Homo sapiens: one gene and its partners. The protein of the gene in region 1 interacts with the protein of each later gene in a biochemical or structural test. Each region holds a gene or a part of one and is shown in the gene's direction. Other genes may lie near its edges.

Evidence for each region.
Region 2: the proteins of ABCC4 (region 1) and PDZD9 interact in a test that uses a peptide from one of them, tested with the Homo sapiens proteins (one large-scale study listed by IntAct).
Region 3: the proteins of ABCC4 (region 1) and MAST4 interact in a test that uses a peptide from one of them, tested with the Homo sapiens proteins (one large-scale study listed by IntAct).
Region 4: the proteins of ABCC4 (region 1) and STXBP4 interact in a test that uses a peptide from one of them, tested with the Homo sapiens proteins (one large-scale study listed by IntAct).
Region 5: the proteins of ABCC4 (region 1) and INTU interact in a test that uses a peptide from one of them, tested with the Homo sapiens proteins (one large-scale study listed by IntAct).
Region 6: the proteins of ABCC4 (region 1) and SDCBP2 interact in a test that uses a peptide from one of them, tested with the Homo sapiens proteins (one large-scale study listed by IntAct).
Region 7: the proteins of ABCC4 (region 1) and PDLIM4 interact in a test that uses a peptide from one of them, tested with the Homo sapiens proteins (one large-scale study listed by IntAct).

The regions. Positions count from the first base shown.
Region 1 is NC_000013.11:95,291,452-95,294,951, reverse strand, and holds part of ABCC4 (ATP-binding cassette sub-family C member 4), read left to right. Parts: intron 1-3,500. UniProt on the Homo sapiens protein: ATP-dependent transporter of the ATP-binding cassette (ABC) family that actively extrudes physiological compounds and xenobiotics from cells.
Region 2 is NC_000016.10:21,984,117-21,987,616, reverse strand, and holds part of PDZD9 (PDZ domain-containing protein 9), read left to right. Parts: intron 1-2,956; coding exon 2,957-3,350; 3' UTR 3,351-3,500.
Region 3 is NC_000005.10:67,162,893-67,166,392, forward strand, and holds part of MAST4 (microtubule-associated serine/threonine-protein kinase 4), read left to right. Parts: intron 1-254; coding exon 255-3,500.
Region 4 is NC_000017.11:54,996,265-54,999,764, forward strand, and holds part of STXBP4 (syntaxin-binding protein 4), read left to right. Parts: intron 1-3,080; coding exon 3,081-3,187; intron 3,188-3,361; coding exon of another isoform or gene 3,362-3,367; coding exon 3,368-3,500. UniProt on the Homo sapiens protein: Plays a role in the translocation of transport vesicles from the cytoplasm to the plasma membrane. Inhibits the translocation of SLC2A4 from intracellular vesicles to the plasma membrane by STX4A binding and preventing the interaction between STX4A and VAMP2.
Region 5 is NC_000004.12:127,639,457-127,642,956, forward strand, and holds part of INTU (protein inturned), read left to right. Parts: intron 1-3,500. UniProt on the Homo sapiens protein: Plays a key role in ciliogenesis and embryonic development.
Region 6 is NC_000020.11:1,319,140-1,322,639, reverse strand, and holds part of SDCBP2 (syntenin-2), read left to right. Parts: intron 1-1,439; exon of another isoform or gene 1,440-2,204; 5' UTR 2,205-2,223; coding exon 2,224-2,277; intron 2,278-2,980; coding exon 2,981-3,050; intron 3,051-3,500.
Region 7 is NC_000005.10:132,260,696-132,264,195, forward strand, and holds part of PDLIM4 (PDZ and LIM domain protein 4), read left to right. Parts: intron 1-1,913; coding exon 1,914-2,065; intron 2,066-3,500.

The DNA.
Region 1 (3,500 bases):
ATGGAGTTTCACTCTTGTTGCCCAAGCTGGAGTGCAGTGGCGTGATCTCGGCTCATTGCAACCTCTGCCTCCGGAGTTCAAGCGATTCTCCTGTCTCAGCCTCCCAAATAGCTGGGACTACAGATGTGCGCCACCATGCTCAGCTAATTTTTTGTACTTTTAGGAGAGATGGGGTTTCAACATGTTGTCCAGGCTGGTCTTGAACTCCTGACCTCGGGTGATCCACCCACCTGGGCCTCCCAAAGTGCTGGGATTACAGGCGTGAGCCGCCATGCCCAGCCTGGACTATGTTTTCTACCCCAACCTTGTGGTCAGAGGTGACCATGAAACTGAGACCTGGCCAATAGGAAGTGGTTGCAAAAGGTGTCTCGCTTCCACGACTGGAACACAAAAACCAGCCCCATGCAACGCCTCTCCAGCTGAATAAAGAGGCCTCCTGGAGAGGAGGAGGACTGAGAGGAGGCCGAGCCGCAAGATGGTGAAAGTCCAGCTAGGAGTAAATGTATGGTGTTGTTCACCACCCTAGATGGCCCAAAAGGGGACTATAGCATGACAATAGGCATGGTCTTGGTTTCTTGTTTTCTTTTTTGAGACGGAGTCTATCTCTGTCTTGCAGGCTAGAGTGCAGTGGCGTGATCTCGGCTCACTGCAACCTCTGCCTCCCGGGTTCAAGCGATTCTCTTGCCTTAGCCTCCTCCCAAGTATCTGGGATTACAGGAGCTCAAAACCACGCCCGGATAATTTTTTATTTATTTATTTATTTTGTATTTTTAGTAGAGAAGGGGTTTTGCTGTGTTGGCCAGGCTGGTCTCCAACTCCTGACTTCATGTGATCCACTGCCTCGGCTGGTGATTTTGAATTAAGCCATTGAGAATCAGGGCTTGTTTAATAGCTAGCATTATTTGCACGATACAGTGGCTGCCTCCCTCATTGTGTGAGCTCTTTGAGAACAGGAATGGTACTTTATTGTAATGGATTTGCACCTGGCAAGAAAGAAGGCACCCTGCCTTCTTTCATGGTGGCACATGCCTGTAATCCCAGCTACTTGGGAGACCGAGCAGGAGAATCGCTTTAACCCAGGAGGTGGAGGCTGCAGTGAGCCAAGATTGCACCACTGCACTCCAGCCTGGGCTACAGAATGAGACTCTGTCTCAAAAAAAAAAAAAAGCAAAAGAAAACGTAGTCCAGGCTGGGTGCGGTGGCTTATGCCTGTAATCCCAGCACTTTGGGAGGCCGAGGCAGGTGGATCACAAGGTCAGGAGTTCAAGACCAGCCTGGCCAACGTAATGAAACCCCGTCTCTACTAAAAATACAAAAATTAGCTGGGCGTGGTGGCATGCACCTGTAGTCCCAGCTACTCGAGAGGCTGAGGCAGGAGAATTGCTTGAACCCGGGAGGCAGAAGTTGCAGTGAGCCAAGATCACGCCACTGCACTCCAGCCTGGGCAACAGAGCGAGACTCCATCTCAAAAAAACATAGTCCGTGTGTCCAGCAGTCGCTGCTGCAGGAGTTCATCCTGAACCCGTGTTGGGTGTGCTGGAGTAGAAGTATGGAAAAGCTGTGTGAGGGTGGGGATTTTGTTTTTGTTTTTGTTTTTTGAGATGGAGTCTCTGTCGCACAGGCTGGAGTGCAGTGGCATGATCTCGGCTCACTACAACCTCCGCCTCCCGGGCTCAAGCGATTCTCCTGCCGCAGCCTCCCAAGTAGCTGGGATTACAGATGTGCACCACCAGGCCTGGCTAATTTTTTTGTTGTTGTTAGAGACAGGGTTTTGCCATGTTGGCCAAGATGGAGATCTCTGGGGAGGGGTTTACCTTCCTGTTGGAGCTTGGATGGAGAAGGTGGGAAATCGTTCCTGGCAGGGGATGAGATGTCCAGGTCACAGAACTGCAGTTGGAGAAAGTGTTGCCTGAGACGTGTGGCGAATGACCACCCCTCAGTCGCTATGTCGTCCCTGCCAGCCGGTAGCGTTTGTTACACCCAAGGTTGCCCTCCCCTCTTTCATCCCAGCAGATGTTCAGACTTTGCTTCTCCCACTTCCAGCCCCTTACTCATGAGTACTTACAGCCCTTTTGTGGCCTGCGACGTAGCTCCTTGTTCCATTTCTGGGTTCCATGACCACTTCCGTGCTGGTCTGTTTCAGGCCTAGTCCCTGTCTGCTCTTTTCTCTGCGCTAGCTCCTATCTTCCCCTTTTCCTTAGTGTCATAGAATTAGTGGGTTGAAAGGAAGAGATCTTCTAGCCCACACTCAGTACAGGAATCCCTTCCAGATACTGGGCAGTGGGGAAATGCATTATGTGACTCTCATGACTTTAGATTCGAATGCCAGAATTATGTTGTATTGAGCCACAGTTTTCTTTCCATGCAATTTCTACTTGTGTTTACTTACTTCTAAGAAAAGCATTACAGAATTTAATGAAGCAAAGAATGATCTGTGAATCAAGCAGCTCCTAGAACCAAAATAGGTTCAGAGCCGCTCTCCTTTGTTTTTTTGTCAACACGCAGAGCAAGTTGGCTACCTCCCTTCATATGCTCGCCTCATAGTATTCAAAGACAGCTATCATGGCCACATTAAATCTTTGTTTCTTTGTTTGAGACAGGGTGTCACTCTGTCACCCAGGCTGGATTGCAGTGGTGCGATCTCAGTTCACTGCAACTTTCACCTCCTGGGCTCAAGCCATCCTTCCACCTCAGCCCCCTGAGTAGCTGGGACCACAGGTGTGTGCCAGCATGCCCAGCTAATTTTTTATATTTTTTGTAGAGATGAAGTTTTGCCATGTTGCCCTGGCTGGTATTGAACTCCTGGGCTCAAGTGATCCTCCCGCCCTAGCCTCCAAAAGTGCTGGGATTACAGGCATGCGCCATGGTGCCTGGACAGGAGTTTATTTTTGACCCTGTTAAGTTTGAGATGCCTGCTACACATTCAAGTGGAGATGTTGAATAGGCATTCAATTGGTCATGAGTTTGGGGCTCATGGAGAAGTTTATCTTATTATTATTATTTCTTTAAATGGAGTTTCACTGTGTTGCCCAGGCTGGCGTGCAGTGGTATGATCTTGGCTCACTGCAACCTCCACCTTCTGGTTCAAGCAATTCTCGTGCCTCAGCCTCCCGAGTAGCTGGGATTACAGGCACGCGCCACCACACCCAGCTAATACTTGTATTTTAGTAGAGATGGAGTTTCATCATGTTGGCCAATGTGGTCAGGAAGTTTATGTCAATTTGGGCATCATCAGTGATACATGCAGTTGAGCTATATTGGACACATGGCCAATTGACCTCACAGTCCGCAGGGCTTGTCCCCATGTAACTGCTCTTCTATCCCTATGCAAATTCATTTTGTAGATGCTAACGTTTAGCAGCTCATTGTTGCTGTTGAAAGTTCTTGGAACACTTTCGTAGTCTGAATGCTAGAAAGGATGGGTCCTAGGAATGTCCTCTAGGTTGTGGCAGATCCACTAATCAACACTGTGGTTGCTAGATTAACTTGGCCACAAGTGT
Region 2 (3,500 bases), on another chromosome or scaffold:
CCACTCTCTTCTTGAAATAGCACTTCCCAGGCTTCTGTGACACCACACTCCCCTGATTTTCCTGTTACCTCTGGCCATTTCCTCTTGGTGTCCTTTCTCCTAGCCAGTTTCATTGATGCCTGTGGTTTCTATGACTATCCACATGCTAATTACTTTCAAACTGTATTATCACCAAAACTGTATTTTTTTTTTCTTGGAGACGAGGTTTTGCTCTTGTCACCCAGGCTGGAGTGTAGTGGCGTGACCTTGGCTCACTGCAACCTCTGCCTCTCGGGTTCAAGTGATTCTCCTGCCTCAGCCTCCAGGGTAGCTGGGATTACAGGCGCATGCCAACACACCCAGCTAATTTTTGTATTTTTAATAGAGACGAAGTTTCACCACGTTGGCCAGGCTGGTTTCGAACTCCTGACCTCAGGTGATCTGCCTGCCTCGGCCTCTCAAAGTGTTGGATTACAGGCATGAGCCACCAAGCCTGGCCAGAATGATCTTTTTGTAATGCAAATCTGATCCTGGCATGTTCCTGCAAAAAATCTCTTAAGACTTTTTGTTCTTTGGATAAATGTCAAAATCCTCACATTGGCCAATGATGCTCTATGGGGTTCAGCTGGCCTCTGCAAACCATTCCAACTTCAACTCATACTGCTTTCCCCATCCTTCTCTAGCCCCCTTTAGCTTCCAGCTCTCTGCCTTTTGTTTTGCCTCAGGGTCTTTGCACTTGCTCTTCTCTGTGTGCAACATGTTTGTAACTTTGCTCTTCAGTAGTCACCCTTGAAGGCTCCAGTGTAACTTCTCCAAGGGGTCTTCCTAGAAACAGGTCCACCTGACATATGCTCTCACAGCTCGCTCCTTCACATTTATCCCAATTTTAATGAAATAATCTGTGTAATCAGTTGTTCACTGTGTTTCCCTGGGAGAATGTGAACTCCATCAAGGCAGGGACTGAGTCTGTCTTGTTTTGCTAAAATTGCCCTAGGACTTTCATGTGGTCAGTGGTTCACTTGTTTTTAATTTTTAATTTTAAAAGTCTTATTTTTGAGACAGGGTCTCACTCTGTCACTCAGGCTGGAGTGTAGTAGCACGATCACAACTCACAATCAAATCCTACTCAGCGACTCCTACACTGGAGGGCACGACTCTAAAAGCCTGGGCTCATGTGATTACATAACAACTATGTTCTAAGCATTTTCATTACATGGAGGAGTTTTGAGATCCAGAATATTAAATTCTAAGGATGGTAGACTGACCATTCAAAAGCAAAGAAAAGATAGAACAGTACAACTTAAGTAAGAGGCGAAAACCCACAAACAATACCAAGCACCTGCTGATTCCCTTTCTTAATTAGGCAAAGTACCCATATCTGAGGCATTTTAGTAACTTATGTATAACGCGGCAGGGAAAGAAGAAGGAAAAAGATGCTTTCACAAAGCTAGTATAAACTTTTCCAGGAGAAAATGGCACTGGGTATACACACTGGAGAAATTCTCCATGTAACGCTCTGGGTAGGCCAAGTGGTATAGAAAGTTTGTTTCTAGCCAATCCTGACCTCTGCAGGGTTGTGGCTTTATTACCTAATGACAATTTACCTGTCCTTTATGGTTACCTAACCATCAGAGTTGCCAAGGATTCCCCCTGCAGTCTGAAAAAAAAAAGTTACTAATACTTGGATTTAAAAAAAAAATTCATGTGCTGTTCAGGAAGACCTAGGTGTGTCTGAAGGCAAATCAGACAAAGAAAATCAGTATTTAAGACTAGTGGCTCTCAGTAAAAATTACTCATTATCAACTGTTTATTACTGGAAGAGATAAACTTTTGGAAAAGCCATTCAAATTATTGGAAGCAAATACAACAGGCAGACTGCCAAGGTTATTAGTGATAACACCAGAAGTCTTAACAGGTTGGCAGGGAAGAAACCTATTTCCTTTTAGCAGGGCAGAATGTACCAGAGATTTGTAATCACAAAGATCTAGTTTTGGTTCTGCTGGGCAATAGCACCAGGATGAGGGAAAGCAGGTGACAGAGCATTCATTCTGGAAAGTTAAAGCAAGCACAGGTACTGTAGGCATTAGGAAAGTTCAGAGACCTGGAGGTGCTAGCAGGCAAGCACCACCTAGTTTCAACAATCAAGAAAGTCAATAATTGGAGAAAGTTAAAAACAACAACAACAACAACAACAAAAACCTGGCTGGGCACAGTGGCTCATGCCTGTAATCCTAGCACTTTGGAGGCCAAAGTAAAGATTGCTTGAGGCCAGGAGTTTGAGACAGGCATGGGCAACATAGGGAGATCCTGTTTTAAAAATAAATAAATAAATAAAAATAAATAAAAATTAGCCAGGTGCGGTGGCATACAGCATACACACCTGTAGTCTCAACTACTTTGGAAGCAGAGGCCAGAGGGTCACTTGAGCCCAGGAATTCAAGGTTGCAGTGAGCTATGATTGTACCACTGCACTCCAGCAAGGGTGACAGAGCAAGACCCTCTCTAAAAAAAAGACTCTAAGACTTACTAATGACTAGGATGTTGAAGATCCTTAAGGCCCACTATTTCCTGACTTCCTGACTCCTCTGGAAATCAGTAATGTTGTGTTAATGCCACGTGAGCCACAAGAATAGAGTTCTCAGGAGATGGCCAGGTTGAATCCGTCACTTTAGCTGCAGTGAAATTAACCTACCCTTTAACACCTCCTAATATTCTGGTCAGTAGTCTAGTATAAGTCTGTGCAAAACTTTTTAAGGTATGGTGAAGTAATTTAAGGCAGAATTTGATTTCCATTTAGAAATGGAAAAAGATTTCAAGACGATTTAAAAAAGAGAAACATTTCAATGACACAGAAAGGTAATGCTAAAGCTAAATTGTATCTTTTATGAGTCAAAGCAAGTTATAAGGCATCTTGTTAGGGGACCATAAATGTTTAGACATGAAGAATCTATTTTATTCACTATTCTTTTCATTTCAGCACACCAAAGAAAATTGAGCTGGCAAAAGATGAATCTTTCACAAGCAGTGATGATAATGAAAATGTAGATTTAGATAAAAGACTTCAATATTATAGATATCCGTGGTCAACTGTGCATCACCCTGCAAGGAGACCAATATCCATCTCCAGAGACTGGCATGGATATAAGAAGAAGAACCATACTATTAGTGTAGGAAAAGACATTAATTGTGACGTGATGATTCACAGAGACGACAAGAAAGAAGTGAGGGCCCCTTCTCCATACTGGATAATGGTGAAGCAAGACAATGAAAGCTCTTCCTCCTCTACCTCCTCTACCTCAGATGCATTTTGGCTGGAAGATTGTGCCCAAGTTGAAGAGGGTAAAGCCCAACTGGTATCAAAGGTTGGTTAGCAAATCTGTGGTCATATGAGCATTTATCTTGCAGACACCCAAGTTTTGTGCCTCACCAGGCACAAGTTTGCTGTACTTATCAAGGACTGTCTGTAGACTCACCAATTCTCTTCTCTTATGACTGCGTTATAAAGCCTTTAGAGATGTTCT
Region 3 (3,500 bases), on another chromosome or scaffold:
AGGTGTAAATTATAAAGACAGATTTATAGAGAGGTCATAAGATGTGGCTATTCTGACCAAACAAATAAGTCAAGAAGTATGGGGCTAAACCTTGGCCTGGAGAGGTTTATCTGAAAAGTGTTTATTCCACTAGCTAAATGCTGAGACAATTTGCTGATCTTACCTGGCCTTACCTAATACAGTCTGGGCTACAACTGTGAAAAAAAGGGGAAAATGACCATGGATGCTCACAGCCTTCTGTTTTCCATCCACAGGTACTAATTCCTCCCAGAGCAGCTCCCCTAGTTCTAGTGCCCCCAATTCCCCAGCAGGGTCCGGGCACATCCGGCCCAGCACTCTCCACGGTCTTGCACCCAAACTCGGCGGGCAGCGGTACCGGTCCGGAAGGCGAAAGTCCGCCGGCAACATCCCACTGTCCCCGCTGGCCCGGACGCCCTCTCCAACCCCGCAACCCACCTCCCCGCAGCGGTCACCATCCCCTCTTCTGGGACACTCACTGGGCAATTCCAAGATCGCGCAAGCCTTTCCCAGCAAGATGCACTCCCCGCCCACCATCGTCAGACACATCGTGAGGCCCAAGAGTGCGGAGCCCCCCAGGTCCCCGCTGCTCAAGCGCGTGCAGTCCGAGGAGAAGCTGTCGCCCTCTTACGGCAGTGACAAGAAGCACCTGTGCTCCCGCAAGCACAGCCTGGAGGTGACCCAAGAGGAGGTGCAGCGGGAGCAGTCCCAGCGGGAGGCGCCGCTGCAGAGCCTGGATGAGAACGTGTGCGACGTGCCGCCGCTCAGCCGCGCCCGGCCAGTGGAGCAAGGCTGCCTGAAACGCCCAGTCTCCCGGAAGGTGGGCCGCCAGGAGTCTGTGGACGACCTGGACCGCGACAAGCTGAAGGCCAAGGTGGTGGTGAAGAAAGCAGACGGCTTCCCAGAGAAACAGGAATCCCACCAGAAATCCCATGGACCCGGGAGTGATTTGGAAAACTTTGCTCTGTTTAAGCTGGAAGAGAGAGAGAAGAAAGTCTATCCGAAGGCTGTGGAAAGGTCAAGTACTTTTGAAAACAAAGCGTCTATGCAGGAGGCGCCACCGCTGGGCAGCCTGCTGAAGGATGCTCTTCACAAGCAGGCCAGCGTGCGCGCCAGCGAGGGTGCGATGTCGGATGGCCGGGTGCCTGCGGAGCACCGCCAGGGTGGCGGGGACTTCAGACGGGCCCCCGCTCCTGGCACCCTCCAGGATGGTCTCTGCCACTCCCTCGACAGGGGCATCTCTGGGAAGGGGGAAGGCACGGAGAAGTCCTCCCAGGCCAAGGAGCTTCTCCGATGTGAAAAGTTAGACAGCAAGCTGGCCAACATCGATTACCTCCGAAAGAAAATGTCACTTGAGGACAAAGAGGACAACCTCTGCCCTGTGCTGAAGCCCAAGATGACAGCTGGCTCCCACGAATGCCTGCCAGGGAACCCAGTCCGACCCACGGGTGGGCAGCAGGAGCCCCCGCCGGCTTCTGAGAGCCGAGCTTTTGTCAGCAGCACCCATGCAGCTCAGATGAGTGCCGTCTCTTTTGTTCCCCTCAAGGCCTTAACAGGCCGGGTGGACAGTGGAACGGAGAAGCCTGGCTTGGTTGCTCCTGAGTCCCCTGTTAGGAAGAGCCCCTCCGAGTATAAGCTGGAAGGTAGGTCTGTCTCATGCCTGAAGCCGATCGAGGGCACTCTGGACATTGCTCTCCTGTCCGGACCTCAGGCCTCCAAGACAGAACTGCCTTCCCCAGAGTCTGCACAGAGCCCCAGCCCAAGTGGTGACGTGAGGGCCTCTGTGCCACCAGTTCTCCCCAGCAGCAGTGGGAAAAAGAACGATACCACCAGTGCAAGAGAGCTTTCTCCTTCCAGCTTAAAGATGAATAAATCCTACCTGCTGGAGCCTTGGTTCCTGCCCCCCAGCCGAGGTCTCCAGAATTCACCAGCAGTTTCCCTGCCTGACCCAGAGTTCAAGAGGGACAGGAAAGGTCCCCATCCTACTGCCAGGAGCCCTGGAACAGTCATGGAAAGCAATCCCCAACAGAGAGAGGGCAGCTCCCCTAAACACCAAGACCACACCACTGACCCCAAGCTTCTGACCTGCCTGGGGCAGAACCTCCACAGCCCTGACCTGGCCAGGCCACGCTGCCCGCTCCCACCTGAAGCTTCCCCCTCAAGGGAGAAGCCAGGCCTGAGGGAATCGTCTGAAAGAGGCCCTCCCACAGCCAGAAGCGAGCGCTCTGCTGCGAGGGCTGACACATGCAGAGAGCCCTCCATGGAACTGTGCTTTCCAGAAACTGCGAAAACCAGTGACAACTCCAAAAATCTCCTCTCTGTGGGAAGGACCCACCCAGATTTCTATACACAGACCCAGGCCATGGAGAAAGCATGGGCGCCGGGTGGGAAAACGAACCACAAAGATGGCCCAGGTGAGGCGAGGCCCCCGCCCAGAGACAACTCCTCTCTGCACTCAGCTGGAATTCCCTGTGAGAAGGAGCTGGGCAAGGTGAGGCGTGGCGTGGAACCCAAGCCCGAAGCGCTTCTTGCCAGGCGGTCTCTGCAGCCACCTGGAATTGAGAGTGAGAAGAGTGAAAAGCTCTCCAGTTTCCCATCTTTGCAGAAAGATGGTGCCAAGGAACCTGAAAGGAAGGAGCAGCCTCTACAAAGGCATCCCAGCAGCATCCCTCCGCCCCCTCTGACGGCCAAAGACCTGTCCAGCCCGGCTGCCAGGCAGCATTGCAGTTCCCCAAGCCACGCTTCTGGCAGAGAGCCGGGGGCCAAGCCCAGCACTGCAGAGCCCAGCTCGAGCCCCCAGGACCCTCCCAAGCCTGTTGCTGCGCACAGTGAAAGCAGCAGCCACAAGCCCCGGCCTGGCCCTGACCCGGGCCCTCCAAAGACTAAGCACCCCGACCGGTCCCTCTCCTCTCAGAAACCAAGTGTCGGGGCCACAAAGGGCAAAGAGCCTGCCACTCAGTCCCTCGGTGGCTCTAGCAGAGAGGGGAAGGGCCACAGTAAGAGTGGGCCGGATGTGTTTCCTGCTACCCCAGGCTCCCAGAACAAAGCCAGCGATGGGATTGGCCAGGGAGAAGGTGGGCCCTCTGTCCCACTGCACACTGACAGGGCTCCTCTAGACGCCAAGCCACAACCCACCAGTGGTGGGCGGCCCCTGGAGGTGCTGGAGAAGCCTGTGCATTTGCCAAGGCCGGGACACCCAGGGCCTAGTGAGCCAGCGGACCAGAAACTGTCCGCTGTTGGTGAAAAGCAAACCCTGTCTCCAAAGCACCCCAAACCATCCACTGTGAAAGATTGCCCCACCCTGTGCAAACAGACAGACAACAGACAGACAGACAAAAGCCCGAGTCAGCCGGCCGCCAACACCGACAGAAGGGCGGAAGGGAAGAAATGCACTGAAGCACTTTATGCTCCAGCAGAGGGCGACAAGCTCGAGGCCGGCCTTTCCTTTGTGCATAGCGAGAACCGGTTGAAAGGCGCGGAGC
Region 4 (3,500 bases), on another chromosome or scaffold:
ATATGTGTGAAAACATTGAGGTTCAAAAGACCATGGCTGGTTTGAGGCACATTCTCTGAGAGTAGAATGAAGAATATGCTGGTGTGGAAGGTGGATGATGAAGCTAGAAAAAGTAAGTTGCAGTAAATTTGTTGTGCTGGGTTTGGGATGTTGAGGAGTTTCAACTTTTCCTACCAGTTGGCAGCCATCAAAGGTTCTCAATCTAATGAGTAATATAATTAAATTTGCTATCAGTATGAAAATTGTCCACAACAGATATGGAAGTCTCATTCACTTCATCTTATTTAACACGTATAATGTGCTATAATTTACATATGTTACTTAATTCTTATAGCAACCTTGTGTTACATATATTTATCCCCATTCTACAGCTAAGAAAATAGAGGTTCATAAAAGCTGAACAACTTGCCTCAGTTCACAGTAATAACTGGAGTTAAAAGAAGGTCACCATCAGTCTACATCTTGTAAAAGTACAGGAAAGGAATCTTAAGGCTTACAGAAGGACTATTCCTTAGTATTAGGTATAATGAGTTAGTTAAGTCAGAATTAGGCTGTATAGATGGTTTCTCATAATATTGAAATGTATTATTTAGAAAACTATATACCAAAGTCAATATAGAAATGAATAGTACTGGTCGTTTTTAACAGAAGTGTTTATGTGGTCAGGAATATATTATTATTTCAACATCTACATGAATGTCAATGTGAAAGAATTCAGATCTGAAGTTCAGCATATGAAAGTGCTTGGCACATTGCCTCCCATGTCAGGTAGTTGCTCTGTAACTGCTGAATTGGAATCTAGACTGTGTGGAAGAGGTCTCAACATATCTCTGAAGTTAGTATCTTCACATATACATTAATCCATCTGGGGCAGAATGCACTCGAATGCCAGACTTACAAAAATAGCTTTGTTTTCATTTGCAGGTTCTGACTTTTAAACAGGTTCAGAAATTCACATGATCAGCTAAGATCTTATTCTAGGAGGCAAAGAAAAAAACTAACTGCTATGAATACTTTTTAGAAAGAAAAAATATGTAAACACCAGAAGTCATAGTCAGAAGGCATTCTTCTTCTTCTCTTTTCTGACTCCCTTCCTGCCAGAAAATGCAGCTTCTATACATCAGTGTACTTTAATACAAGATGGGCTAAATTGCCTTCATGTGAACTTTTTTTCTGTACTAACACTGCATGTTATGTTGTCTGACTTTGCTAACTATGTTTAATCACATATTTACATAAAATCAAAAATTTTTTTTAAATTATATATATAACATAAATATATATAATATAAATATATATATTATATAATATAAATATATATATATTTTATATATTTTATATATATATATATTTTTTTTGAGACAGATTTTTGCTTCATTGCCCAGGCTGGAGAGCAGTGGCGTAGTCATGACCTTGACCTCCTGGGCTCAAGTGATCCTCCCACTTTAGCCTCCTGAGTAACTGAGACTACAGACATGTGCCAGCTATTTTTTTTTTTTTTTTTTGAAAGATGGGGTCTAACTATGTTGCCCAGGCTGGTCTTGAACTCCTGGGCTCAAGCAATCTTTCTGCCTCAGCCTCTCAAAGTGTTGGGTGTACAGATGTGAGCCACCGTGCCTGGCTTATATATTTTTAAAAATTAAGTTGACTCTTTTGGCTTAAGTATTTTAAATAATGTTTACATTTCAGTAGGATAGGGTCATTATGCATCTAGATTATATAATCTTTTACACACTATTTGAGATATGTTTCTATAAAATCCTTTCATGAATGTTTTATGTCAATTTTGTTGTTTTCCTATATATTCTTTAGTCAGTGAAAGAGATAGTACTTCATGTCTTTTTAAAAAATAATAATACCTGTTGTTATTTAGGAGTAAAATAACTGTGAATCACCATTATTACAAATAATACAGCTTAGATCAAAGATCAGTATCCAAGGGATATATTTTAGTAGATAAGACTTTAAAGAAAGATGTTTTCTTGAATTTGTGGAAGTTACTTAAGTACCATCAAGGTGAAAATCTCCCTTTTTAACCATATAAGCTTTTTCTGTAGTTATAAAAATAATGGTTTCTACCACTGTACTAATTAATGATAAATAGGGAAATACCTTAGGAACTGTAAAAGAAGAAAGCTTATTTTTATTTTCTAGTTTGAATGAAAAGAAAAGACAAAAACTGGGAAACTTATCTAACATATCTAACAACCACATTAACTCTTGTTCCTGATATGCTCTGTCTTACTCAGTTAGGCTAGCTGTGAGCAAGCCAGGCCTTAGCAAAGGCAACACCAGGCAGCCAGTTAGAATTGTCATTATTAGCAGGATATGGCTAACAATATATGCACAGCCAACTAGGCCTTAATCATAGGGGGATAGCAGGTATAGTAAAAAAGATTATGCTGAAATATGGGTAGGATCAATATAATTAAAATCCTTGGCCAGGCGCAGTGGCTCACACCTGTAATCCGAGCACTTTGGGAGGCCAAGGTGGGAAGATTGCTTGAGCCCAGGAGTTTGAGACCAGCCTGGGCAATGTAATGAGACCTCATCTCTACAAAAAATTTTGAAAATTTAATTTTTTTTTTTTAAAAACCCTTGACTAAAGTTTTAAAAATCTCAATGTGGGATAAATCCACACACACATTGAACAGTTTGGTGGGAGGACATATGTAGGAATGCAGAGAAAATAAAATAAATGAGTTTTGTATTGTGAAATATCCCACAGTTATTTGGCCCACTTTATCACAGAGTCAGAGCTTTATCAGCCCCATAGTGCTCAGTTTTTAAAACAGGTCCCTTTTCCTGGTATACTGGCCTATGTCCTACCTACCATATTAAGAATTCTTTACCACGTAAATTTATTCATGCAATACATGAACCATTCCATTTTACTCATAATATATGTTACCAAACCAGACTTTAATCAAGAGATTTTGCTACTGAGGTTGTCTAAGATTTTACTTTTTACTCTTTTTGAAGGCATTCTTCACGAAAACTTTTCATTGCTTTAATTACATCAATTAATTTTTTTTTAAATACCTCATTAGTTCCTTTATAAATGTTACTGTTTTTGTTAGGATGGTCGTTTGAAGCCAGGAGATCAACTTGTCTCAGTCAACAAGGAATCTATGATTGGTGTATCATTTGAAGAAGCAAAAAGCATAATTACCGGAGCCAAGTTGAGGTAACTATACTATCCATGAGATAGAATGAGTCATTTAGAATGTCTCCTTGAAAGCAGTAATTTAAGATGTATTAAGTACTTTATAATAAGTATTTTTTAATAACATCTGAAACATTATCTTGGATTTCAGTTGTACTATATTCATAGCATATCCATAAAGTGATTTCTTTTTAGTACTAGGTTAGAATCTGCTTGGGAGATAGCATTCATAAGACAAAAATCCGACAACATTCAGCCAGAAAATCTGTCATGTACATCACTTATAGAAGCTTCAGGAGAATATGGACCTCAAGCCTCAACATTAAGTCTTTTT
Region 5 (3,500 bases), on another chromosome or scaffold:
ATTTCTTTAATTTAGGGAAGTTGTAGTGAAAGGTTAGGTTTTTGTGGGTTTTTTGTTGTTGTTGTTGTTAACACATCCCCTTTCTTCTAATAGGGCTAGAAGAACTAGTTTGGGACAACAGTCATTAGAATTCTATTAAAATTTCTTAATACACTAATCATTTATCCTCTTTTTAAAAAATTGACACATAATAATTACACATATTTGTGGAGTATAATGTGATGTTTCAATAGACATATACATTGTATAGTGATTAAATCAGGGCATTTGGCCTATTTATCACCTCATATGTTTATCATTTCTTTGTGATGAGAACATTCAAAAATCCTCTGTTCTAGTAATTTTGAAATATACACTATAATATTGTTAACTATAGTCTCCCTACTGTGTAATAGAACACCAGAATTTATTTCTCCTATCTAACTGTAACTTTGTACCCGTCGACCAATCTCTTGATGCTTACTTAACTCGGAACTATTCCTCTGGAGTAGAAATAAAGAACCTTCCAGGAATATTGACCTGTAGGGTCCTTAAAGGCAGTGCCTCGCTTTGCTTCTTGTGTCACTATCACCTACCCTGAAACCTGGCAAACTGAGATCATTAGAGACACCTTCATTTAATGCCAGTTAGAAAAATACAGAAACACAAGAGTTATATCTAGTAAAAGCAAGAGGAAGGGAACTGATATTTATTTGGAACTTAACCATGTCAGGAACAACATTATTGTATTTTCTATTGACAAGAGTCCTGTGAGGTAGCTATAATCTATTTTCAAGAAGAGGAAAACTAAAGCAATCAGTCAATCTTAGAAAGGTTAAAATCATAATAGAACAAAATTTGAACTCAGCTCTTCATGATTTCTCAGTTCATTTGCTTTTCAGTATAAGTTGCCCTTCTGTGTGGGGGTCTCTTATTTACACTTCCCTGTCTCTACCTCTTTATCTTCCTTTTAGTTTCTTCCTCTTTTTAAAAAGTGTCTTTCTCTTCTTAAAATGATGTATATTTAGAAATCTAGACATTAAGAGAGTGGATCCCACACATCGCTAGTGAAAATATAAATTGGTATAGTCTTTTGGGTAAAGATACATATATATATATATATATATATATATATATATATATATATATATATATACATATACATAAACACACATGTGTATATTGATGGTTCCTATAACTTTGTGGTGGAAAAACAAGAACTGAACACAAAGCTTATCAGTAGGTGAATGACCAAATGTCCTACATCCTTGATATTGAATATTATGCAGCCACTAGTGATTTCTAAGCTGTATTGTTAAGTGAGAAATTATATATGTACTTTATATAGGTACATATATAATGATTCCACTTTTTCAAAACAGTGACAGAATAACCCTATATGTGTTTTTATATGATTATAAAGCATGGATTTTTTAACAGTGTTCATGTGAGAGAGAGGTAGTAAGAGAAGTATTAAGATTGTGTTCCCATGTATTACAATGAGTCTGCACATGGGTACTCACAAAAGGATGCATGAAAGTATAGTCACCAGCTAGAAATCTAGTCAACATGAATCCCTCTCTCTCTCTCTCTCCCCACCTAATCAGTCTCAAAGTTCTGGTGATTTTCAAGAGTTTCTCACATATTTTTCCTACTTTCCATGTCTTCTACTATTGCTTTATTTGTCATTTTTGCTTCAGCTACTGAAACAGCCCCCTGACTAGCCCTCCTGCCTTGAGTCTTGTCCACCTCAAATCCACCAACGATTTACTTGCCAAAGTAGACCTATCCAGGGATATCTAACACGTAAACTCTCTACTTAAAACTCTTTGTTGATGCCTTCTTACCTGCACTACAAAAGCCAAACCCCTTAGGGTGATCTAAAAAGCCTGGCAAAACTAGGGCTTGACCACTTCTGTCATTCCCCACCTTCCGCATTTACTCTGACAACTGCAGACTGCCAGTGGTTGTCCGTCTAGGCCATGGGGACTATCCTCAGGTCTTTGCTTATGCTGTTACTCCTGTTTGAAATCCTCTTCACATCTTTCCCTTCAGCTCCCCACCTCTCTCCCTCCTTCATTTATCCTTTCAAACTGGTTTCTGGGGTCTCCCTGATCTCCCCTCAACCTCCAGCTAGGCTAAGCTGGGTGACTCTCCCGTATGGCTAAGCTGGGTGACTTTCCTGTATGGCTAAGCTGGGTGACTCTCCTGTATGCCTCTATCTTGTACTTACCCTGTGTACTGTCATGAATTCTTTCTCACTTTCTCTTCTTTACTAAGCAAGGGCGGGAACTGACATTCTCGTCATTATAATTCTGGTACTTACCATAGTTCCTGGCACTGTTTAGTTGCTCCACAATTGAATGCCAAGATGCTATCCCCTTGGCCACCACGTGCATGGATCTTTGAATCATAACCAAAAGTGATTTCACATTCAAACTTTAGAGATTGAAATGAATCATCTTCATATTTAGTAAGTGGAAAAGATGTTTCTTTTATATATCTCTAATACAAATAACTTACCAGGTTAAAAGGGTGAGATAATAAGGCTGATACACTTTATTCATTGTTTAAATTGATATATATATATATTTTTTAAATTGATACATATGTTTTTAAGTAATTAATGTGCAATCATGGTATTTACACTGTAGCAATTAAAATTAAGGTAGCTTTGTTACTAAATGATTATGGTGGGGATATAGTTATTTAGACTCTCAAGAGTAGAACTGCATAGTTATTTAAATATTGATTCTGTGGGTACAGATAGGTATTGTTGAAATAAGTGATATTTGGTTGATAATCTGCAATAAGTGAGGCTTAGTGCCTATGATGATGCCACACACTGGGAACCAACAAGTCCCAAAGAAATGTTAGTTTTGATATTTTCAGCTTGTTAGGCATTTTTAAAAATGACTCATATGTAGCTGAAAATTCTGTATTAATGACCAGCCACAGACCAGGGCAGTGGTTAGTTTGAGTTGAGTAATAGAATAGTATATTTTGGGGGCTAATTTTCAAAGTGTTTAGAAAGAGACATTTGACTTTTAAGTTAAGAGAACTGGAGTTGCTAATAAACACTGCAGAAAACAGAAATGTCTTCTATCTGATTTAATGATTACAACACAAATTATACTCTTTCAGGCCGGGATATTACAGCTCATGTTTCTGAAAAGACTCTCTACATGTTAATTTTTCCACTATTACTAGTTTCACTTTAAAGAATAGCAGTTTGAAAGGTAAACTGTTCATAACATTGAACAGGGTAGAGTTTAGGTTTGTTACCATGAGTATTTTTGCTCCTTAATGCTATTTCAATCATTTTAATAGCAGTAATTTTGTTTTTTTTTTCAGTGGCATACTTCCCAGTTAAAAATATTTTTTATAATCACGATGAATTATGTAATATGTGCTTTTTTTTTTCTACTACAATTTTTCATAAAAAGGAGTTTTATGGAAATTATAGACAGTAAAGTGATCATTACTATATTAACTGTGATTATAAATGGGTTGTTTTCAGG
Region 6 (3,500 bases), on another chromosome or scaffold:
AGATCGCGCCACTGTACTCCAGCTTTGGCAACAGAGTGAGACTCTGTCTCAAAATAATAATAATAATAAAACAGGACTGTGAGAGGCACATTTGGGACTTCTGGTCCTTGTTTCATCCAGGAAGGTGGGTGTTCTTAGGATACTAGAGCTTTACTTTACAAGGAGAAAAGTGGAAGCCCAGGTAGAATGTGTTGCTTCTGGCAATATTATTGAGCTAGCCTCCATGCTAGGGGTTAGAGGCTTCACAGCAAATGAGAAGCCCCTGTTCCTGCCATCTTGGAACTCCTAAGGAGGTAGACAGACAAGTAAAGAGGCAACCACAAGAGTGGTGAATACTCAACAGGAGTAGGACATGGAGCAGGGGCTAGGGGGAGCACAAATCAAAGCAGGCTTCCTGTAAGAGGAGCTCCCTGATCTGAGACTTGAAAATTATTAGGAGTTGGCCAAGCAAGGAGCAGGGAGAGGAGGGGTATTCCAGATAGAAGGAATAACACATGCAAAAGAGACAGGAGGGAATCACATGCAAGGACGTGGAAGTAGCTCATTGTGGCTGGAGTTGAAAGTAGCAGCTGAAAGGACGTAAGGCAAGAAATGAAGCTGGAGAGGTAGACTAGGGTTGCAAACAAATATCTATTGGGACTTGGCACCAGTGAGTACAATGGTCTGGGTGTAACAGCCAATAGAGGATGGTGGACTGGGTCACCCTGGAGTCTGCTGCTACTCAATTGTAGCTACTCTGCTATAGCCTAGGGTTGCCAAAGCTTCCTGTTTTTTGGGAGCAGTGGGAAATTCGATTATTAAATCCAGTACCTTGAGCTTTGTGTTTAAGCTGCTAATCTGAACGTTTACAGTACTCCACAAGGTCAAATAAAATCTATTTCCATCTGGCCCTGGGCCCACCAGTTCCAATCTCTGGTGGAATCGTGAAGGCCCTGTGAGCCTCTTTAAGGAGAGTACATTCCCAAGGCAGGGAAGCCACTGGCGGGCTTTCAGCCAGGGCATGACATCCCAAGTGTGTACACAAAGGGCCTGGTGGCTGCTGTCTGGAGAGCAGCAGGACGGCAGGAGGGGAGGCAGCAGTGTGTTTGGAGGGTGTTATGGCACCTGGAGAGGGCCAGGGAGATGATGGGGACCTGCACAACACGGGATGTGGGAGAGATGGGATTTGATGACAGACAAGAAGGGATAGTGGGGGCGGGGCCAAGGATGACACAGGGGTCAAGGCAGCAGGTGCAGAGGGAGGAGAAGGAGCAGTGATGGATGAGTATGTCCTCGGCGTGCCTGTGGTCACTCAGGGAGGTGCCCAGCGGATCTGATCCTGGGAAGCCTGGAGTCACATCGCTCAGGCACAGGACCCTCAGTTTCCTGTGCCACCAGCGGGCATTCCTTTATCATGTGTACCCATCACATGTGAGTTCAGTGGGGTGAATAGGACACACCTTTACCCCTCAGAACTGCAGTCAGGACAAGTGGCGAGTTCAAGCAAGAGGCTGGCCCGGTGCTGTCCCGGAGCTGTCCCGGAGGGCAGGGTCCTGGGTGGGAGGGGCAGTGACCGTATTGCCTGGGAGCCAGGGGAGGCGTGTCCCACAGGAACCGAGGGTGACAAGGAGGTTGGGCAGGGGCTCCAGTTGGAGTGGACTGCCTCAGCGAAGCCTGGAGGTGTGACAGAGCCAGTGGTTAGTGAGTAAAGGGAAGGAACCCAGAAAGGCAGACTGCTCCTTCCCCACATTTCGTCAGGAAGGGAATAAAACATTTCTTAAGAGGTCATCATTCCTTTCACTTTCTCGGGGCACCTTGCTCAGAGGTCCTGCTGATTCTCCCTGGGACAATGAGAAGGTGTTTAGTAAATAAGTGCTCATGGTGCCTCTCCACCCCCCATTCCCTCCTCCCTCTGGAGCAGTGCCCTGTTGAGTGTCTAAGTTCTGCTACAGTTTGTGTGAGAGTCTTTATAAATTTCCTACTGGTCTTACTTCATTGTGGCCAAGATTAAAAGTTGACAGTGAGGCTGGAGATGAGTGGAATACAGTAGAGTTCAAATATCGACAGGGGATTAGGGGTGGAGTTCGGGGAGGCATTCTAAGTGCCCTGCTGCCTTTCTGTTTGAATATTAAGTTCCAACCCGCTTGCTGTTGCGGATGTCTGTGCCTCCTTTCAAGGGGGCATCAGCTGCATCCTTATCCTTCCCCACCCTCTGCACTCTGCAGGGTGTTCTGAGAATCAGCCATGTCATCCCTGTACCCATCTCTAGAGGACCTAAAAGTGGACCAAGCCATTCAGGTAAGTCGCCAGGCCCCATTGGCCTGGATTCCCTGAAGGGGACCTTGGGGATTACCCTGGAAGGTGCTGGGTACTGGGGCCACTTGGAGATTCCCGTAGGCCTCAGGGCATGTAGGTGTCCACTGCAGGGCCTGCTGGGCAGAGAAGACATCCAGGGGGCAATGCCAATGGCGTTACAGCAAGAATAGAAAAGACCAAGCAGCGCACGCATGCCTCTCTCATGCCTGCTCTGTCCTGCCCAGGCCCAGCTCTCCCTCCCTCCAGGATGGGCGGGCTCCATGCTCTAAGGCAGGCTTTCAGAGGAAACAAGACTAGTGGGCATAGGCATTGGTCTGCTTAGCCCCCAGAAGCCCCCTTCCTCCTCCATCCCAGCACTCTGTGGTTCCAGTGGGTTTTGAGAAATGGAGACTTTTCAGCTGAGAACTTGATTGGGAGATGGGCCTTGATGTTCTGCCTGTTGCAGGCAGTAAATGGGTTGTGACATAGGGTGGGTCACAGTCCCCCAGAACTTCCTCCCAGGAAAAGACACATCTGCGGAGGCCACGTTTACGTGATCTTGAGCCCTGAGGGTTGGTGCACACTCCCCCCACACCCCGGGCCCACTCACACCCCTAATGCCCAGACCCTGGCCTCATGGAGCTCCAGGCTCTGGGGTTCCTGGGGTCCTGGCCACAGCTGACCAGTGCTCCCTGCTCCTCCCCAGGCCCAGGTCAGAGCCTCACCCAAGATGCCAGCCCTGCCAGTCCAGGCAACAGCCATTTCCCCACCACCAGGTGAGTGGGCTGGGATGAGGGGCTCCTGGGTGCCAAGTCCTTTCAGGGAAGAGATCATCAGGGAAGCTTGGCAATGCCAAAGGTATGGGAGGCTCCAGGGTTAAGGACTCAACATGGTGGGAAGAGAGGACCAGGCTTCCAGTTGCCACCCACCTCTTACTGCCTGGGTGACCTGGGCTGAGTCACCTCACCTCCCAGAGCCTGTGCCCATGCTGTTCCCCTCCCTCCTTGACTGCCTGGTGAACCCCTGTTTATCCTTCCAAACCCAGCTCAAGTTAGGGAAGCTATGGCTTCTCTGATGCCCCCAGCAAGGCTGCCTTGAGGATGTGATATCATTTGTGGGGCCTCTGTCTATATAAACGATTTGAGTCACCTCAAATCAGCATTTCAGCACCATTCTGGTGATCCAATCTCATGTGACCCCGGGAATGAAATACCACACTTGTCAGA
Region 7 (3,500 bases), on another chromosome or scaffold:
GTCTTTTATCAATTAACTATCCTTCTGTACTTCTCTGGACCTCCGTTTCCTGATCTAGGAAATGGGCTTGCCTTCAGGATTAATGAGATAATGCATGTAAAGGTGACTGGGAGAGTCACAATTTCTTGGCCTCACGCCCTCTCTGACCAGAACTCCCCTAGCTCAATAGAGCTGGCAGCATCCCAGCCACCACTGCTTTCAAGAAACTTCCTCCGCCCACAGAAGCCTGAATGTACCCCTTGTGCTGGCTGAGTCATCCTGCCGCAGTTAGCCGCCCCCTGAAGAAAGACTCCTCTCCAGTGTGGGGACTGGGGCATGGCATCCCTCCCCCAAGCTTCTTTCTCTTCATCTGTAAAATAGGGATGAGAACAGCCTCTGCCTCACCAGGTGGTTGAGGGGTTGCTGTGAGCTAGTTATGGGTAAAGCATAGAGCCCAGGCCCTGGCACAAGGCAGGTATCCATGAAGGGGAGGAGGCAGAGGATGGCCTTGAGGGGAGGGTGGGATGGTGCCAAGTGGGTGTCTCCCCCAGGATGACAGGCTTGCACAGGTGCCCAGGCCCTACAAGTGAACATTAATGATGGGCTAGTTGGCTGAGGGTGTCATGCTTCAGAAGAACGTTTCCTTGAGGCAGCCTACTTCAGGGCAGGTCAGCTTGGGCAGTGCCAACACCAGGCCTCCAGCCAAGGAGCTGCCAGCACCTCAGCTTTGTCCACTCACTACTGAGACCTGGCTGAACTGAGCCTAGCTGGGCTTCCAGGAGTTCCCACCAGTAGGAGCTCCCACCCAAAAGAATGGGGTCACTGGCAGCTTTTGAACCAGCTGGGCACTGGCTGGAGAGGCTGGGTAAGAAATATATTTCTAAAGGCTATGTTGGGGTCAAGGCAGGGTGAGGGGTGCTCCATGGCCTGGATTCCCCTGAGTTGCTTACTTAGATATCTCTGTGAGTCTAACTCCACCCCCCATTCTAGCCTTCTTCAGTTGACCAGCATTGTAAGAGCTTCCAGGTGTGAACACTGCTTGACCCCGAGGGGTCAATAGTGGCACTGAGGTAGCCTGAGTTCCTGTCCTGCAGGGGAAGTAGAGGTAGAATTCTGACCCCCAAACGCAGGCTGTCAGCTGGAACTGGATGGCCCTGGACTTGCTCAGGGAGGTGATGTTCAGACCTTCCCATTTTAATTATAATGAAGTATTAACATGAACAGTGTAGGGGGAAAAGGTGGTCATGGGAGCACACTGGGTAGTGAGATCCCAGAGAGGCTCCCAGAGGAAGTGGCCTCTATGCTGAGATCTGAAGGATGAGGATGTGGGAGTCAAAGGAATGTTCCAGGTGGAGGGAGCAGCTTTTGCAGAAGTGTAGAGGTGAGTGATATATGGTGCCTGTGAGCACCCCATAGACATTCACATGGTCTGGACAGAGTGTGGGTGTGGAGGTGGGGATGAGAGTTGAAATCAAGCAAGTAGGAAGGCAAGGTCACTAAGGGTTTGAATATTAGGTCAAGGTGTGTAGTCTGTCTGGTTGGGGCCTTGTCTGTGTAGGGTATCTGTGATATGTCCATGCTGTGTATGTATCTGTGAGCACCTATGTCTCCATGTGTCTCTGTGTCCCCTGCATGTCCTTGGGCACATACGCAGGCTGCAAGAACAACATCCATTTGTCCCAGCCCTGAGGAAGCCCTTCTCGTATATCCTCATGCCCTGCCAGGCCTCCAGGTGCTGGAGTTGGAGGTGTTTCCAGCAAGGCTGCAGCCAGGCTACATGGGGACCTCAACCAGCCACTCGGCTTGCCCATCCACAGGCCATGCTGGTAGCAGGCCACACTGGCTAGGTTCTGAGGTTGGAGGAGGCCTAGGGCACAGCTTGCAGCAAGACCATATCATGACTGTGCCCAGCCATCTGGCTTGTCTGCTCGCAGGTCCATGCTGGCAGCAAGGCTGCATTGGCTGCCCTGTGCCCAGGAGACCTGATCCAGGCCATCAATGGTGAGAGCACAGAGCTCATGACACACCTGGAGGCACAGAACCGCATCAAGGGCTGCCACGATCACCTCACACTGTCTGTGAGCAGGTATGCACAGGTGGGCTGGGCTGGGAGGATGGAAGGACGAGGTGGGCAGTTATGGGCAGCTGGCATTTTGGGTGAGCCCAGCTTCACACAGCCTCTCTGCCTCAGCTCCTGGGTGCCCCATCCAGGAACAGTCCCAAGGAGTAGCACTTTCATGGGGGCCTGGCAGATACTGTTTAGAGTTATAGCTTAAGAAGGGAAGAAATCCCCTTTTAACTTAGACTAGAAGTGTGTTGGGGCACTTATGGCAAGTGTTGCAGGCAACTGAAATAAGACCTTGAATAGCCTCTGGGGCATTTGTTTCATTCCTTTCCCCTCCCCTGAGTGACCAGCTTGATGACCATTTCAAAGTAGTTTCTTGTGCAACACCTCATTTAACCCTCATTTACCAACTTAAAAAAGGGCTACTATAGTCCCCACTTCACAGATGAGACAAGTGAGGCTCAGAAAGGTTAGATGGTGCTTAAAGTCACACAGAGAGGGAGTGGGGTAGCAAAATTTGATTTTGGGGCTCTCTCCTAAGACTACAGACCCTTAACTTGGCTGCTGACTACTCCTACCAGCCCCTCAGCTGCCCTGCCACAGCTGTCGCCACCGTGGCCCACACCTCTGCCCTGGTTAAATCTGGATTTGGGAAAAGTTCCCACTAAGGACTGTGTAATGCTTTGCAGCCAATCAAGAAGGGGAGGACAGGGGGTTACCAAGCCCATCTGTGCTCCATAAATGATCCTGGGATAGAAGGTCCACTGGGGGTGGGGGTGGGGGGACCCAGCCTTGCTCAGGTCCTGGGTCTTTACTCAGCTCTGAGAAGCAGTTGGCCTAAGCCTGGCTGAGTGGGATCTCCCCACTCCCCTGCCCACCTTGATCCACAGAAGTCGGGCATAACTTATCAGCTCTGCCGTGTTCACTGCTGAGGGGATTTCCATGACCCCCTGTGGAAGTACGTGGGCAAAGCCTCCCCAAACCACAACACAGCTAACCATGCCTCTGAGCTGGCAGGGTGGGAGGTAAGCCACTGGCTTGGAGCCTTTAAACATGGTGGAGAGGCCTGTGAGGTCAGCCCTGTTTGTGCTTGGCCCTGGCACACGGTGAGGATGCTCCATCTTTGGAGTTCAGCAAAGCTGGTCCTCATCCAGCCTCTGGAGCCTTAGGTGCCCAGATGACCTCTATGAGCCCGGGGTTTCCTTTCCCATTAACGGATCACATTCATCACCCTCCTCCAGACTGAGATACAGGCTGGATGGGGGAAATGTCAGCATTGCTCTGCCCATGAGTGACCTCTGAAGCTTCCCCACTTGGCTGGGATCCTGGCCCCTGACTCACCTCCAGCCTTGACTCTGTGTGGCTGAACAAGGGCAGCCCTAGTGGTAGTGGAGTAGTGGGGAGGAGTGCCTCAGAGGGGGCCTGAGTCAGGAGCTTCTCAGAGTGTATGATGTCA